Regions from separate parts of the Homo sapiens genome. Here region 2 is linked to region 1. The links come from fine-mapping of genetic effects on gene expression. Tissue or cell type: whole blood. Region 1 holds a variant in brackets; the other region holds the start of a gene. All regions are shown on one strand. Distances are from middle to middle.

The links. PIP is the estimated chance that this variant, and not a neighbour inherited with it, causes the effect.
Region 2: it holds the start of SEMA4D, and the variant in region 1 is fine-mapped to the expression of SEMA4D in whole blood (TOPMed, PIP above 0.99).

Annotation. Positions count from the first base shown.
Region 1 is chr9:89,376,787-89,384,888 of GRCh38, reverse strand. SEMA4D (semaphorin 4D) reads left to right here. Exons shown (of 16, transcript NM_001371194.2): 14 at 3,543-3,715; 15 at 3,791-3,834; 16 at 5,260-7,654. The coding sequence ends at 6,185. Among named protein-coding and RNA genes, the nearest start is that of SECISBP2, 62 kb to the right of the region's middle. The variant G/C (reference allele first, on the strand shown) is at 4,466.
Region 2 is chr9:89,493,131-89,501,232 of GRCh38, reverse strand. It overlaps SEMA4D (semaphorin 4D), which reads left to right and starts at 3,120. Exons shown (of 16, transcript NM_001371194.2): 1 at 3,120-3,314. RefSeq lists silencers at 3,031-3,220, 3,651-3,800.

The DNA of each region.
Region 1 (8,102 bases):
TCCAGGTGGGGGTGGAAGGCCCAGCTCCATGGCCATGGCAGCAGGAAGTGGCTGTTCAGTGGTAAAAAGACTGTGCCGCCTGACCCCATCAGGCTCTCTCACGGTGATCAGCAAATGGAGAAACGGCCAGTACCACGCCCTCCCCCTGTCCTACAGCTGGGGAGGTGCGCTGTGCCTCCACCCTCACCTCCTCTCCCCTGATGACAAGCATGGGGTTTTGCTTTTTATTTTGGTAAATACACATCAGATGAAATTTGCCGTCTTAACCATTTTTCATTGTGCACGTCAGTGGCATTAAGAACATTCACGTTGTTTTGCAGCCATTACCACTGTCTGTCTGCAGGGTGCTTTTCATCTTCCCAAACAGAAGCTTTTTACCTGTGAAATACAAACTCTTCATTTTCCCCTCCTCCAGCCCTGGGCAGCCGCCATTCTGCTTTCTGTTTCTGTCTGGGTACCTCATATGAGTGGAATCACACAGTATTTATCCATTTGTAACTGGCTTATTTCACTTAACATAAAGTCCTCAAGGTTCCTCCCTGCTGTAGCAGGGGTCAGGGTTTTCCAAGGCTACATACTCCTCTGTCGTATGTGAATACCGCATTTTGTGAGTCCCGCATTTTGTGTGTGCGTTCATCCCTTGATGGACACGGTTGCTCCCACCTTCTGGCTTCTGTGAACAGTGCTGCTGTGAACGTGGGTGTGCAGATACCTCAAGTCCTTGCTTTCCATTCCTTGGGCGCACACAGCAGATGCGGTTTGCTCGGCCCTCTCTGAGCCCACCGAGTAGGCTGTGTCTGTATTTTCACCAGGACTCCTTGGGATGCTGAGCTACAGCTAGCGTGGCAGAGGGCAAGGAAGGCACTTAGACAGCTCAGTTGCCTCTGATCACGTCCACCGTCACTCCAACCTGCCCTCGGGGTCTGACGCGCACACACAGCAGCAGAGACAGAGATGGGAGCATGAGAGCTGCCTGCAAGGGGACAATCCTCAGGCCCAGGGAAGGCGGAGACAGGGGGCGTCGAGGGGCAGGAGTGCACAGGACAGGCTTGCTCTCAGCGGGCCTCACTCATGCTGCCAGGTGCCTGGTCAGGCTTTTTTTCTTTGCCTTTAAAAATTTTGTCTTGAAATAATTTTAAATTTACAGAAGAGTTTTGATGATTGCACAGAAGGATCTTGAGCGCCCCCACCTAGCTCCACATGTCCGATGTCTCACATAGCCAGTGTGCATTTATCTGAGCCAAGGTGCTGTCATGGTGCAGTGCGTTACCTGAACCCCAGACCCTGGACCCTCCTACCTCCCGCCCACCACATTCCTGGCTCAGCACCTCAGGTTGCACTGGACACTGCATCTCCTCGGCTTCTGCTCTGTTCCTGCCTCCCTGACCTCAGCACTCCTGGAGAGGAGTAGTCTGGTGTTTTGTGGTGTGTCTGGTGTATTCTTGTGATTATCTTGGGGTCGTGGTTTTAGGGGGAGCACCAAAGAGGGCGCTTTCTGGGGATGGGGCATCTGTATGACTCGCACCAGCGTGATGACCTTGGTCATTCTGTCCAAGTCACCACCGTCTTTTTCCATGTCGAGTGTGTCGGGGCATGTAGTCCACACTGGGGGTGGGGGAGAGTGAGCCCCACCTCCCAGGGGAGTCATGTGGGAAACCCCCACAGTCATTCATGCTTATTTGCAGGGACAGACTTGGAGGCTACAGAAATGCCCTGTTCTCCCACCCACTGACATCCACATCGACCAGTGGGTCCTGCCTGCAGCAGTTACAGCTGGCTGTCCTGACGACCAGTTCCTCCTTCCCTGTCCCCTCTTCCCTTCCACAGTCATCCCTTGGTCTCTGTGTGGCGTCGTTTAGTTTTTACAGCTTAGTTTCATTTGGGCTGCAGCCCAGCCCCATCCGGGAGAAGCGGAAGCTGGGGCTGAGTCTCCCGCAGGGTGCAGGAGGTGGTCTGGATCCCCTTGGGACAGGCCTTGCCCCCCAGAGCCCACCCCACCCTCCACAGCTACCCTCAAGCCTCTCTTTGGGGTGAGGAGTCAGGCGGGCCCCACTTGGCCACCCAGGGCACCCTGCTCTGCACTGCATGGTGTTCACGCCACCTCGCAGGTGCCCCCCGCGGGACCCAACAGGACCAGCTGTCCCTTGGAAGTTACCCAGCTTGGCTTTGCTGCCAGAGAATGTTTCCGCCACCTCCACAAGCCGCGCGATGCCCGAACTGTGATCTGGGATGTCATCCTCAATCCTTCCCACAAACGTGGCTCACACATGGCCTCATCTGCCCAGGTCTCTGCTGCTGCTGCTGCTGTGAGGCCAGCGGCGGGCCAGGTTCCCTCTGCTGTGTATTATCACAGTTTCCATCCTTGGGGGCTTTCCCTTTCTCTCGTGGGTCTGTGTCCGCACAGCTGGATGTGTGGCCTGGGGCTTCCTGTATTGGCATCAGGGCCTGTGATCTTCCAACCACACTCTGAAGTTGACTCCGAGCGTATCCTCTGAGGATGAAGGTCGTGTTTCATCTGACTGTAAACCACTAAGTCATGTGTAAATTTGGGAATCTTGTATTGTTAACCAAAAGGTGTCCCCAGGCTGTTGAGGCAGATGCCCTGGGCAGAGGCTAGAGAGCGCGCTCCACGGGCCACCTCCAGGTCTGTTGCACGCCCCCGAGCTTCAGGTGGGTGCACTGCATGTGGGGCACCCTCCTTCCAGCTGAGTTCCGTTCAAAAGCAGTCAGCAGCCCTGGATGCCTGTGTGCTGGGCACTGCTGGTGCCAGGTGGGCTGATGGGATGGACCTGAAGCTGGTGTCACTGGGAACCAAGTGTCCCAGAAGGTGGGAGAGTCTCACCTGCCCTCTGCTGTGGGTGTGGCTGCTCTGGAGCTCGGAGGTTGACTTCCCGTCTGTGAGCTCTTCCCTTTTACATATAGATAAGTGAAAAGCAAAAGGCATTGTTCCTTTTTTATGTTTTGTATCACGATCTCCTCATCCTTTGCATGTCGTCCGTTTGGCATCCCTGTTATGTTAGGCCTCTGCTGGATCCAGACCCTCACGAGAGGCTCCCCGCCCACAGGTGCTCACATTCTGGCTCGGGGGACGAGGTTGGGCTTCGAGGTGGTGTGCTTCAGCCTCTGGCTGCAGCCCCTTCTCACCTATAGTGAGGCCGGGAAGATGACCGGGAGTGCCAGGCTCATGCATCCTCTGCTGCAGGGAGGAGATCTGGAGGTGGGGACTGAACAGCCTCCCCACTGGCTAAGAGAAACACGTGCAGAGAAGCGCTTTGCTGGAGGGCAGGCACCTGTGGGTGCCCAGACAGGGGAGAGAGGGATTTGGACCTAAGGCCCAGTGAGCCCTGACATAGCACGTGGATTCTGCAGGAAGGTCACAGACCTGCCTTGTTTGCCTCTGGTTCTGAGTACCTCTCCTCCTTACTGCAATGTCCCCTGAAGGTACACTCTGGCTGCTTCCCACACACTGGTGCAGAAGCAGAGGCCATGCTCCTGGATGCCTGCTTGCCTGATGCTAGTTCTTCTCTGTCTCATACACGCAGGGCAACAGGTTTGTCTATGCTGGCTCTAACTCGGGCGTGGTCCAGGCCCCGCTGGCCTTCTGTGGGAAGCACGGCACCTGCGAGGACTGTGTGCTGGCGCGGGACCCCTACTGCGCCTGGAGCCCGCCCACAGCGACCTGCGTGGCTCTGCACCAGACCGAGAGCCCCAGCAGGTATGGGGCGGGATGCGCTGCCTGGGGATGTCCCCCATGTGTGTGGGTGAATAACACGTGCCGGTTGTTTTGCAGGGGTTTGATTCAGGAGATGAGCGGCGATGCTTCTGTGTGCCCGGGTGAGTGACTCCTCGACGTCCCATTTCCTTTGGGAGTGGCGAGGTCTTGTAGCCATTTCACGGTGCTTCAGTTCTGTGGCATTTGTGTGTGTTTTGTTTTTCTTTCTCCACTCGGAACAGAGGTCAAGTGTTCTGTAGCAGACTCGTGGTCTTCTCTGTCTTTTTTTCTTGCCGAAAGAGTACTTGAAGCCACTTAGAGTGTATCTGCTTACTGGGAAGCAGTCTCCTTCCAAAACCATCCTGTTTTCTTTCTGCTTAGCTTGGGGCTCATTAAGCAAAACCTAAGCCTGTTATAAATGGGGAGAAAGGAGCCCATGAGTGATTAATCCTCAGGCAGTGTAAGGGCTGGGGTGGTGTTTCCCCTGGGGCTCCCACCTGGGATTCACCCGCCTGTGGATGTCTGAAATAGCACCACACCCAGAGGGAGGGGTGGCATCAGGCCAGATGCCCCTTCCCCAGCAGCCACCTTCCAGGGTGCTAAAGGCAGACTTGACCCTCAGTTCTGTGTCTTCCTGACCCTGACAAGACAGCTGTCATCAGACTAAGAAAGGTTTAGGCAGCTGGGCATGGTGGTACACGCCTGTAGTCCCAGCTACTAGGGAGGCTGAGGCAGGAGGATTGCTTGTGCCCA[G/C]GGGTTCAAGGCTCAGTGAGCTTATCATGCCACTGCACTCCAGCCTGGGGTGACAAAGTGAGACCCAGACTCTAAAAAGAAAACAAAAGCTGGCCGGGCACAGTGGCTCATGCCTGTAATCCCAGCATTTTGGGAGTCTGAGGCAAGAGGATCACTTGAGCTCAGGAGTTCGAGACTACCCTGGGCAACGTGGTGAGACCCTGTCTCTACAAAAAATACAAAAATTAGCCAGGCCTGGAGGTGGTCACCTGTAGTCCCAGCTACTCTGGAGACTGAGGTGGGAAGATCCCTTGAGCTGGGGGGGTTGAAGCTGCAGTGAGCTGTGATTGCACCACTGCACTCCAGCCTGGGCAACAGAGCCAGACCCTGTTTCAAAAAAAAGAAAAAAAAGAAAAGTTTAGGCAGGAGGAGAGTGCTGAGATGCACTGAAAGGCCAGTCTTCCTTGCAGCCATTAGCAGAAGCGTCTCGTGTCTGATTCAAAGAGCTGACACTAGGCACAGAACTGGCCTCTGCTCAGCTTCCCCAGCCTGACGCGTTTTCTTCTGGGACACGGGTGAGAAATGGGATTTCTGCTGCTCAGAGCTGCCTCCAATTTCTTTGTCCCCATGGGCTGTCATCCAGGGCTCATCTTTGCTTTTTGGTCACGCATGTCTTTATCTCCTTAGTTGTTCTGGAAGATTCCATGTTGCTACAGTGGGTGAAACTCTTGCGTCATCTTGTGGGTATTTTAAAGAAGTTGTTAAATAGCAAATGGGGATTGTTGACGCTGTGCACGTTTATTTTGATGTTCCAGATAAAAGTAAAGGAAGTTACCGGCAGCATTTTTTCAAGCACGGTGGCACAGCGGAACTGAAATGCTCCCAAAAATCCAACCTGGCCCGGGTCTTTTGGAAGTTCCAGAATGGCGTGTTGAAGGCCGAGAGCCCCAAGTACGGTCTTATGGGCAGAAAAAACTTGCTCATCTTCAACTTGTCAGAAGGAGACAGTGGGGTGTACCAGTGCCTGTCAGAGGAGAGGGTTAAGAACAAAACGGTCTTCCAAGTGGTCGCCAAGCACGTCCTGGAAGTGAAGGTGGTTCCAAAGCCCGTAGTGGCCCCCACCTTGTCAGTTGTTCAGACAGAAGGTAGTAGGATTGCCACCAAAGTGTTGGTGGCATCCACCCAAGGGTCTTCTCCCCCAACCCCAGCCGTGCAGGCCACCTCCTCCGGGGCCATCACCCTTCCTCCCAAGCCTGCGCCCACCGGCACATCCTGCGAACCAAAGATCGTCATCAACACGGTCCCCCAGCTCCACTCGGAGAAAACCATGTATCTTAAGTCCAGCGACAACCGCCTCCTCATGTCCCTCTTCCTCTTCTTCTTTGTTCTCTTCCTCTGCCTCTTTTTCTACAACTGCTATAAGGGATACCTGCCCAGACAGTGCTTGAAATTCCGCTCGGCCCTACTAATTGGGAAGAAGAAGCCCAAGTCAGATTTCTGTGACCGTGAGCAGAGCCTGAAGGAGACGTTAGTAGAGCCAGGGAGCTTCTCCCAGCAGAATGGGGAGCACCCCAAGCCAGCCCTGGACACCGGCTATGAGACCGAGCAAGACACCATCACCAGCAAAGTCCCCACGGATAGGGAGGACTCACAGAGGATCGACGACCTTTCTGCCAGGGACAAGCCCTTTGACGTCAAGTGTGAGCTGAAGTTCGCTGACTCAGACGCAGATGGAGACTGAGGCCGGCTGTGCATCCCCGCTGGTGCCTCGGCTGCGACGTGTCCAGGCGTGGAGAGTTTTGTGTTTCTCCTGTTCAGTATCCGAGTCTCGTGCAGTGCTGCGTAGGTTAGCCCGCATCGTGCAGACAACCTCAGTCCTCTTGTCTATTTTCTCTTGGGTTGAGCCTGTGACTTGGTTTCTCTTTGTCCTTTTGGAAAAATGACAAGCATTGCATCCCAGTCTTGTGTTCCGAAGTCAGTCGGAGTACTTGAAGAAGGCCCACGGGCGGCACGGAGTTCCTGAGCCCTTTCTGTAGTGGGGGAAAGGTGGCTGGACCTCTGTTGGCTGAGAAGAGCATCCCTTCAGCTTCCCCTCCCCGTAGCAGCCACTAAAAGATTATTTAATTCCAGATTGGAAATGACATTTTAGTTTATCAGATTGGTAACTTATCGCCTGTTGTCCAGATTGGCACGAACCTTTTCTTCCACTTAATTATTTTTTTAGGATTTTGCTTTGATTGTGTTTATGTCATGGGTCATTTTTTTTTAGTTACAGAAGCAGTTGTGTTAATATTTAGAAGAAGATGTATATCTTCCAGATTTTGTTATATATTTGGCATAAAATACGGCTTACGTTGCTTAAGATTCTCAGGGATAAACTTCCTTTTGCTAAATGCATTCTTTCTGCTTTTAGAAATGTAGACATAAACACTCCCCGGAGCCCACTCACCTTTTTTCTTTTTCTTTTTTTTTTTTTAACTTTATTCCTTGAGGGAAGCATTGTTTTTGGAGAGATTTTCTTTCTGTACTTCGTTTTACTTTTCTTTTTTTTTAACTTTTACTCTCTCGAAGAAGAGGACCTTCCCACATCCACGAGGTGGGTTTTGAGCAAGGGAAGGTAGCCTGGATGAGCTGAGTGGAGCCAGGCTGGCCCAGAGCTGAGATGGGAGTGCGGTACAATCTGGAGCCCACAGCTGTCGGTCAGAACCTCCTGTGAGACAGATGGAACCTTCACAAGGGCGCCTTTGGTTCTCTGAACATCTCCTTTCTCTTCTTGCTTCAATTGCTTACCCACTGCCTGCCCAGACTTTCTATCCAGCCTCACTGAGCTGCCCACTACTGGAAGGGAACTGGGCCTCGGTGGCCGGGGCCGCGAGCTGTGACCACAGCACCCTCAAGCATACGGCGCTGTTCCTGCCACTGTCCTGAAGATGTGAATGGGTGGTACGATTTCAACACTGGTTAATTTCACACTCCATCTCCCCGCTTTGTAAATACCCATCGGGAAGAGACTTTTTTTCCATGGTGAAGAGCAATAAACTCTGGATGTTTGTGCGCGTGTGTGGACAGTCTTATCTTCCAGCATGATAGGATTTGACCATTTTGGTGTAAACATTTGTGTTTTATAAGATTTACCTTGTTTTTATTTTTCTACTTTGAATTGTATACATTTGGAAAGTACCCAAATAAATGAGAAGCTTCTATCCTTGATTTGGGGAAGACATTCCTTAGCGGAGGCTGTGCAGCCTCCCGCCCCTGCATGGCCCAGGCGGGACAGCTGGGCTCGCTCTTTTCTGTCCGTTTCCTGCTGTGTTTTGCCCTCTCTGGCCTGTGACGTGCTCCTGGCGACTTCTTCCTCAGTGCCCTCTCTTTTCTGTCCTCTCTGTCTCACAGCCTCGTCTCCTAAGCCCCTCCCTCCTCCTGGCTCCTCTTCCCTGTCCTGTCTGGGCCATGTGGGGGACAGGAGGCTTTCCTCTCCCTGGACCCCCTGGCCAGCCTCGGGTGCGGGGCCCGACAGCAGCTCGAGGGTCTCCTTGCTGCCGCCCTTCCTGAGTGACCAGGCACAGCACGTGCACGCCCTGGGGAACTTCTACCTCTTCTGCCAGGCCACAGGTGAGTTGGGCCCTCTCTGTCCCCTGTGCCCTGTCCATCTGTCTCC
Region 2 (8,102 bases), 120 kb before region 1:
ACTTTGCAAAGCATGGTCTCAGTATCCAAACACTTGGCATTTCTGGGGAAACTAGGAAATAGATTGGTTAATATGATCTTTGATATGCTTGAACTTAATATTGGAGGGGAAAGTAAGGGGGTGAGAGGTAAGGCAAGATTGGAGTTCATTTAGCTACTTTTATTTTTATTTTTTGAGACTGAGTTTTGCTCTGTCGCCCAAGCTGGAGTGCAGTGGTATATGATCTTGGCTCACTGCAACCTCCGCCTCCCGGGTTCAAGTGATTCTCCTGCCTCAGCCTCCTGAGTAGCTGGGATTACAGGTTTGTGCCACCATGCCCACCTAATTTTTGTATTTTTAGTAGAGACGGGGTTTCACCATGTTGGCAAGGCTGGTCTCGAACTCCTGACCTCAGGTGATCCGCCTGCCTCAGCCTCCCAAAGTGTTGGGATTACAGGCGTGAGCCACTGCACCCAGCCTGCTACTTTTATATCTATGTTTGAAATGTCCCACGACAGAGTGTGAAACAAGAATAAAAAGGCAAGCTTGGTCACTTTGGGAGACATAGGCAATCATGCTGAGAGAAGGGAACAGGGAAGAAGGTCAGAGAGGAGGGAAGAGGAAGACCTAATAATGGCATCCAAGTCCCGGTTCTAATGGTACTTGGGGCATCTTTGGATGCAAGTGAGCCAATAGTATGGGCTGAAGTTCTATCACTTACAACTAAGAGTCCTGTCTCCTTCATGAATGCAATAAACATGTTTGGGGGCAATTTTATATAAGCACGGTGCAAAGAAGCCCTTGTGTTCGCAGCCTGGGCATTGCGGAAAGCTTTTTGGAGTTTTTACTGAATTCTCTCATGTTCTTCTGTATGCATTAGGAAACAGGCTAGAGAGGACAGTATTCTGGAAGGTCATGATGCCAGAAGTGTGGGCCCCAGGACAGCCATGCAAAGTCTCTTCTTTGCCCTGGGCTGCCCTCTATTAGATTCTGAGCATGTGGGTCTAAAAGCCAGGAGAGAATTCAGCAGTTGTTGAGAAGCATACCCCTCTGCTGCTGGTCCCCTCCCTGCAGTGTGTTCCCAAGGTGGCCCCAGGCCTGTCTAGACGCTGGCTGTGAAGGGCACGCTCCTGTAGGGGCAGCCGGCTCTTCCACAGTGAGGTCTGTCAGAAAGCGCCCACGATAGGCAGGAATCCACTTTCTCATCTAATTTCCACCCATCTGTCCTCATTCTGCCCTTCATAACACCACAGAGTAATCCTTCTTCCCGGGACAGTTTTGCACATATTGGGGTTCTTCTGTCTTGTGCTCCACACATTGATTTTCTAGGCTGAAGACTCCCGGTGGGTCAACTCCCCTCCCACGGGATACTGCTGGCTGCCTTAGACACCAAGCAAGGGCATGGTATTCTAGATGTGTCTGACTAGTGAGGAATAAAAGAGAGTCCCCCCACCCCACCCCAATCAGTGCAATGCTTGCATGTGTAGATCCTAAGCGTGCATCCCTCCTTGGGTATAGAATGCTGTTAAACCAGTTCTGTCCTAATCCGTTCCCATTATGTTTCAATCCAAATGGGATGTGGAACATGGATTCATGGACCCCTACAATTGGAAAAGAGCTTGGAAAAGACTTCTCTAGTTTTTCCTGTAATAGTCACCAGCACTGAACCCGAGCACACGGTGCAGTGGGCTTTACCTGCCATTCTCTCTCCGTGCTCCCCAAACCCTCCAGGACGACCACACTGTCCTCATGTTGCAGGGTACAGAGGTTTGCTGAGGCCTGAGGTTATTTGGAAACTGCAGAGCTGTGAGTCAAGGGAGTCTATCAGATTCCAGGTCTGGATTCTTCAGCAAGAGGGTGGTGGCTGCCATGCCGTAGAGGGAGGAGGGGGTGCGTGCTCCACCCCACCCTGCTTGACACCAGCTTTGCCATCTTAGCCTTTGCTGGGCCGAAGCCCTATTCTCAGAGCTCCGGCACTGAACCACAGAAACCACAGGAGGCCCTAGAACGGAACTCTGAGACTGTTGGGCCTTTAACTCTGTGACTGTTGGGCCTGGGACTGGCTTCATTTGTAAACTCTGGCTCTCAGAGCCAGTGCTCAGCAGGAAAACAGCCTCAGGGCCCCTGCCCCTCAACAGCAGTCTGTAGTCCAGGGAGGTATCACCTGGCCTGGAGAGGGGCTCCCCAACTCCTCACATTTAGGGGAAATCTTAGCTGGTTCCGTAAGAAACTGTGTCCCCTTCTCAGGACTGTGTTCCTCAATAGGCCTCCCAGCCTGGCCAGTCACTGTGCGAGCCCTGTCACCTCTCCTGGGGGCAGAGGGAAGAGGTCTGGATGGAGCAGCACCATCTCTGAGGGCCCCCAGATCCCCAAACCCATGGGCTAGTCACAAACAAGTCTCACCAGCAGCCTCACAGGAGGACCATTTGCCATACAGAGTGGAAAATGATGAACGTTTGGCAAAAGGCTAGCACGGGGGTTCAGGGAAACCAAGACTCCAGGTGGTGCCAGCCCCTCCCCTGGGGAATGGGAGCAGCCTGGTGTGAAATATTCTTGCCCAAAGTCAGCAGCCAAGTGTTCTGGGTGCCACGTGCCTCACGCACACTGCAGGTCAGGTTCTCAGAAGAGCTGGCCCAGGGTCTGGGGGTGAAAAAAAACTGGGGGATTTGGGGGAGGCCTGGAAAGGGTGGGGTTCATCCAGGACCCCAGAAGGGGCAAGCTTGTCTATTGAGAGCTGGTGAGGAAGAGGGTGACAGGGCACCTCTTGGTCCTGGGAACGGGTGCTTGACTCAGCAGAGACCAACCCAGGGCTGAGGGACAACCCTCTGGGCCTGGCGGGGAGGCAAGAGAGATGGGAGGTGAGGAGGAAGGAGTGGGGAGCAAAAGTGGGGAGAAGGGGAGAGAGGTGGAAGAGTGTTGCGAAGGTGAAGAAAGAGGAGGAAAAAGAGAAGGGAGGAAAAGAAAGGTTGGGGGAGGGAAAGGAGGGAGGTGAGCAGGGGCGAGGAGGAGGGAGGAGGAAGGAGGAAGAAAGGGGCGGGGCCATAGGAGGGAAGAGAAGAAGGGGGAGAGGAAGGGGAAGGGAAAGGGGAGGAGGCGGGAAGGGAGGGGGAGCGGAGGAGGGGCCTGCGCGCCCGCCCCGCGCACTCCGTCCCCGCGCCGGCCTCAGCGCTCTCGCGCGCCGCAGCATCCCAGCCGCCGCTGCCGCCGCCGGGCCTCCCCGCCACCCCCTCCCCGGCCCGGCCGCCTCCCGCCGCTGCCGCCGCCGCCGCCGCCGCCATTCCTGGCGCCCGAACTCGCCCGGCCGGGAGCCGCCGCGGGCAGGACGCGCGCTGCAGGTAAGCGGCCGGGCTGGCGCGGGAGGGAGGGCGCGCGGGGCCGGGCAGGTGCGCTGGGGGCGGCCTGGACCCTCCGCGGAGCCCCCACTCCACACCCCTAGGCTCCTCACCGGACCCTCGGGGCCCTCCCCGAACCCCTGCAGGAGCCTCCTTCTGGGATCCCCGGACCCCTGGACTCCTTCCTGGATCCCCCCGGGGCCCCTCCTGGGACGCCTCCCAGAGACACCTACCCGGACCCCTCCGACCCCCTGGACCTCTCTGCTATCCCTCCCCGGCCTTCTCCCCTTCCCGGTTGCCTCCCCAGTCCCTGCGCGCAGGTGGCTCCTCTGGGCGCGGGGGAGCGGGGGCGCGCTGCATACCCGGGCCAGGGAGGGGGCGGTGCGCTCGGCCAGGCCCCGTCGCGCCCCGGCCCGCCCAGTCCGGCCCCGCCAGGTCAGGCCCCACTCCGGCCAGCCGGGCTCTGGCCGGGCCCCCGCGGGCTTCTATTTTGGTCGCGGAGGCCGCGGACCCTGTGCACTGGACCCGGCGCCGCGCACTCAGACAGGTGGGGCAGGTTGGGCCGCAGTGGTCAGGTCGCCGCCTTGGCAGTGAGTGCTGCAGGCCTCGGTTTCCTTTCGGGTTTTGGTTGCATTATTCTAGAACAGCCCAGGAGAACCACAAGCCTTAGCTTGGGCTGCACCTGTTGCAGCCGCCTAGTGAGCTGCAAGGGGCTGGCTCTACTGGGGTTATGCCAGTAAAAACGTGTAAAGGAGAGTTGAACTCGTGGTTGTCCTCTATTTTCTGGCTTAGTATTTTGGGGGGTAGGTGGGAGAGTGGGTGAATGGGAGTCTGTAAGTGGGCAGTTTGCGTCAAATGAGGCCTGGTGTCGAGGGCTGGGTCCTGCTTTCCGGAAGGTTTTCCACATGAAGTTGCTTTGCTTTTGTTTTGAAAACCTCACTCTGTGTTGAGCACATCCCAGGCTCGTGGGTGGCCAGGCCCCCGAAGGCCAAGCTGGACGTGGGGCCTGGGGCCAAGCATCTCACCCTGCTGTTCTGAGTCTTTTCAAATCCACCAGGCGCCACGGAACGGAAGTTTCCTTTCCTGGGGGTGACGTGACACCAGTGGCCTGTCACCTCATATGTGTCCTAGGCCTGGGGCCTGCCTGCTGGCTGCCCAGGCGAGGTTATTTGGGAATGTTTACTGTGTCCCAGAAACAGGCAGCTCTGGCCAGTGCAGGGGCAGGATTCTGGTAGAGATGATAATGCCCTGATTGTCATTTTGACAGTTGGTGTCTGCGTATATCATGTCTTGGTAGTCGTCAGCCAGAAGAAGAAAGCAGGCGGGCTCAGCATACCCACCAGGGAGGCTGGGGTGGGAAGATGAGGGATGCACTGGCCTGTTTCTGTGAGCAAAGACTGCCCTCCCATAAGGCCAGACCTTCAGACTGAGAAGAGTGTACGTGGTACACTCAGCGAGTCAAACAAAGAAATAGAAACACATCACTGGTGCCAGGAGCAGCCCTGGGGTCCCAGGAGGGTGGGCCGCTTAGGAGTTGGTAGACGGTGGAACTCAGTGGCTGTATTTCAGAGTGCAGACAGGCAAAAGGCCACCGTGGGGATGCAGAGCCCCAGCTGCCATGCCAGCCCAAGGTCTTGCAGCACAGCACAAGGGAGGGACTCCATGGGAGGGGGCCCACCTCCTGAGAAGCACACCCAGAGTCTGTTGAAAATGCAGCCTTGCACAGACCCCCCTGAGTGCCTGGGGTCCTGGGCTGAGGTTTAGAGTGCAAGACCAGCGACCATGTTGCATTTGATATCCAGTGGGTCTGGGGCCAGGGAGATGTCCTTGGTGACATCATCCACTTGTGGACAGTCCTCTCCATGTGGACCGCTGGAGGCAGATGTTACCTAGAGCCGCTTTCCCCACACCAAGCGGGTGTGTCTAGGCCAAAGCTTGGGAGTGCACGCTAATGGCCAGCTTTGACTGAGGAGGGAGGGAACGTCCGCTGCTGACAGCACAACAGCAAAATCAATAATGCATTGCAAAGATCAATGGTTTTCTCTATCTTCTGTGCTTCTGCATTGAGGCTGTTCAGGCTTCTGCCTCTCTTGGTTCCATTTCTGTTGGGGAGGGAGGGATGGGCGGGTCCAGGAGGGTGGTTGCAGATTCTCCTCCTGACCCCTGGAGCCAGAGCTCCAGGGTTGGAGCTAGGACCCATGGGGATGAAACTTGCCACGTGAAAATATAGAAATAAACGTGCCGTCGGCTGATTGTCGAGCCTAGTTGCTGAGAGAAAGGCTGCTGCCTGCTGTTCCCAACCAGGGCAGTTATTTCTTCTTTGAACTTGGACAATTCCAGGAAGAAGACTAGAAGGTGAGAAGGGAGGTGGCAGAGGCAGCTGGGGTGGGTCCTCTCTTCCCTGGGCCAGGGTCCGCCCTGGGCTTGGCAGGTGCAGTTCCTCAGCCCTGCCCATTGCATCCCCATCCCCATCACCATTGCCGTCCAGGGTCCAGGGCTGCTGGAGGAGATAGCTGCTGATTCAGTCAGGTGGAGAGGGTGTGCCAGGGCCTTCCCTGGAAGCTGGGTGGTGTTTTAGGTGCACTAGTTAAGGCGATCCTTGGGATAAGCAAATTGCTTTGCTGCTTGTGGGTCACTTTTCAGCTTCTGTGACCCTCCCTGAGCGAATTTGCCTTTAGCTGGGGGTGTCACAGCAGGGGCCCCAGCTTTCTACTGCCTTGCTGCTTCCCCTGGGGCATCAGCAGCCGCCTTCCCACAGCACCTGTGCAAACCTCAGTGGGGGGCAGGCAGGGTCCTGTTATTTGGTCCAGAAGTTTCAGATGCTGCCCATGAAAGCAATGACTGCATCCCTGCCCTGGATCACATCTAAGTGGCACCCCAAGATTTCTGGCTTCGATCAAAGCCTGATCCAGGCTGTCACTTGGATCAGCATTTGATCCAAGCATCACTCCTTTGAAAACTAGGCTATTGATGTGTCTCATGGACATTTGTGGAGTGAATGATGATTTTAAGGAATTCCTTAATCACAGCATCGTGGTTATGTTAGAATAACTTTCACCCTTTAGCAATAGATACTGAGTGTTGGTAGATGAAATGATGTTTGGGATCTGCCTCAGATTAGTGTGGGGTGGGGAAGCAGAGGGGATGAGAAGGGGCGAGATGGTCTGAGTGGACAGTTTGGGGTCTGGATGAGAGTACCTGGGTTCTTTGTTCTGTTCTGCCTACTTGCATGCACTTTGAAAATTCTCCATCATGAAAAGTTAATAATAATCGGAGATCTCCAATTCCTCCCTGTAAAACATGCCATTGGATTCTTTACTTCATGATGGCATCATTCAAAGGTTTACTTTAAAAGATATGCCAATCTATTAAGTAGAAATGTCACTCCTTAGTGTAGACTATAGAGAATGTGCCCTCTCCATGCACAAGTGCAGGCGCTCAGCACGGAAGCCCATCTGGAAGGACACACACCTGGTATTCAGCAGATCATTATGGAGCCGCCTATGTGGACCTGGTGCCAGGCGCTGCCCCAGGCTCTAGGGACTCAGCCCTGAGTGAAAGCAGCACTCCACAGTTAGCAAAGGGTGGGGCGTGTGTGAATGTGAGTGAGTGTGTGTTGGGGGAGGAGAGGGAAGAGGAAGAGGGAACCTATACTTTGTCTTCTTTTTGTACTTATGTATGGTTTGTTTCTGTTACAAGGAATTATTTTTGGAATATCAAAATGAATTTTCAAAAAGTGGTCTTCATTAGGTCATATACTTTCCTCTGGCGTTTTAAATAGAATTTGATTTGTGGAAGTTCATGTTTCTACACGTCTTAATAACAGATGAATTGGCTTCCATGAGGCAATCAATGAATCAATAGTTATTGATCCTCTGAATATGTGCTTTGTGGGCTATGAAGGATAGAAATCAATATGCTACTATCAGCATTAGGGGAGACAAGACAAAGACCCTGACAATTAAATAATAGTACAATCCAGCCACAGAAGGGTTATCCTTACACTCAGTACAGAAACAAAGGCCAAGTCTGGTCTGGAGCCTGCGCCAGAGGGGTCCCCATTGCTGGTTGGCTGACCTGGACCTGGGGCTTGTTCCAGCATTTCCTGTGGTGTCTTTGTTTTCTTCTTCCATTTAGTAAAGGATATGTTAAGTAACCTAAAGCTATAGCAAAAACATAAGTGATGCGTGCTGCATAGAAGTCTACAAAGTAAAAAGTAGAAATTGCTTAGAATTGTAACAGTTTTTGTATTTTCCTGATCTGTTGCAAGAAATTAGAGTTGCTTGAGCAGCCAGAACGTAATTTGCCTTGATGTAGAATGTGGGTGTTTGTTAGGCCTTCTGATTTGTGTGTGTGTTTTGACTTTGTTTGGAAGGACAGAAAGTTTCCCGTTAGGCCTGCAATTGACCCACTTGGTTCTCACTGTGAGTTTAGGAGCTTTTGTTTGTTGTTGTTCCTGACCGGTGTGTCCCATGTGCTGTGAGGGCACAGCCCAGTGCTGCAGCAGGGCTGTGGCGGGGCTCTGAGCCCTGGGCCATCTTTGAGGGCTGAGGGTCTTGGCACATGTTCATTGTTGTGCTGCCAGGAGCCGCCTGCCTTTGCGCCTGCACAGAACCACCCAGTGGGTGGATGCACATTCTTTTCCCCCATCTGGATCACACTTATCCTGTATAGCCCCCTCCTTCTGAGGGCCCACAAGGAGCTGAGCCATCTGGGCAGGTCACAGTGCTGGCACGTTTGGTCCCTGGTGGGTGATGCTCCTTTGTCTTAGGTTCCTGACCTGAAGGAACT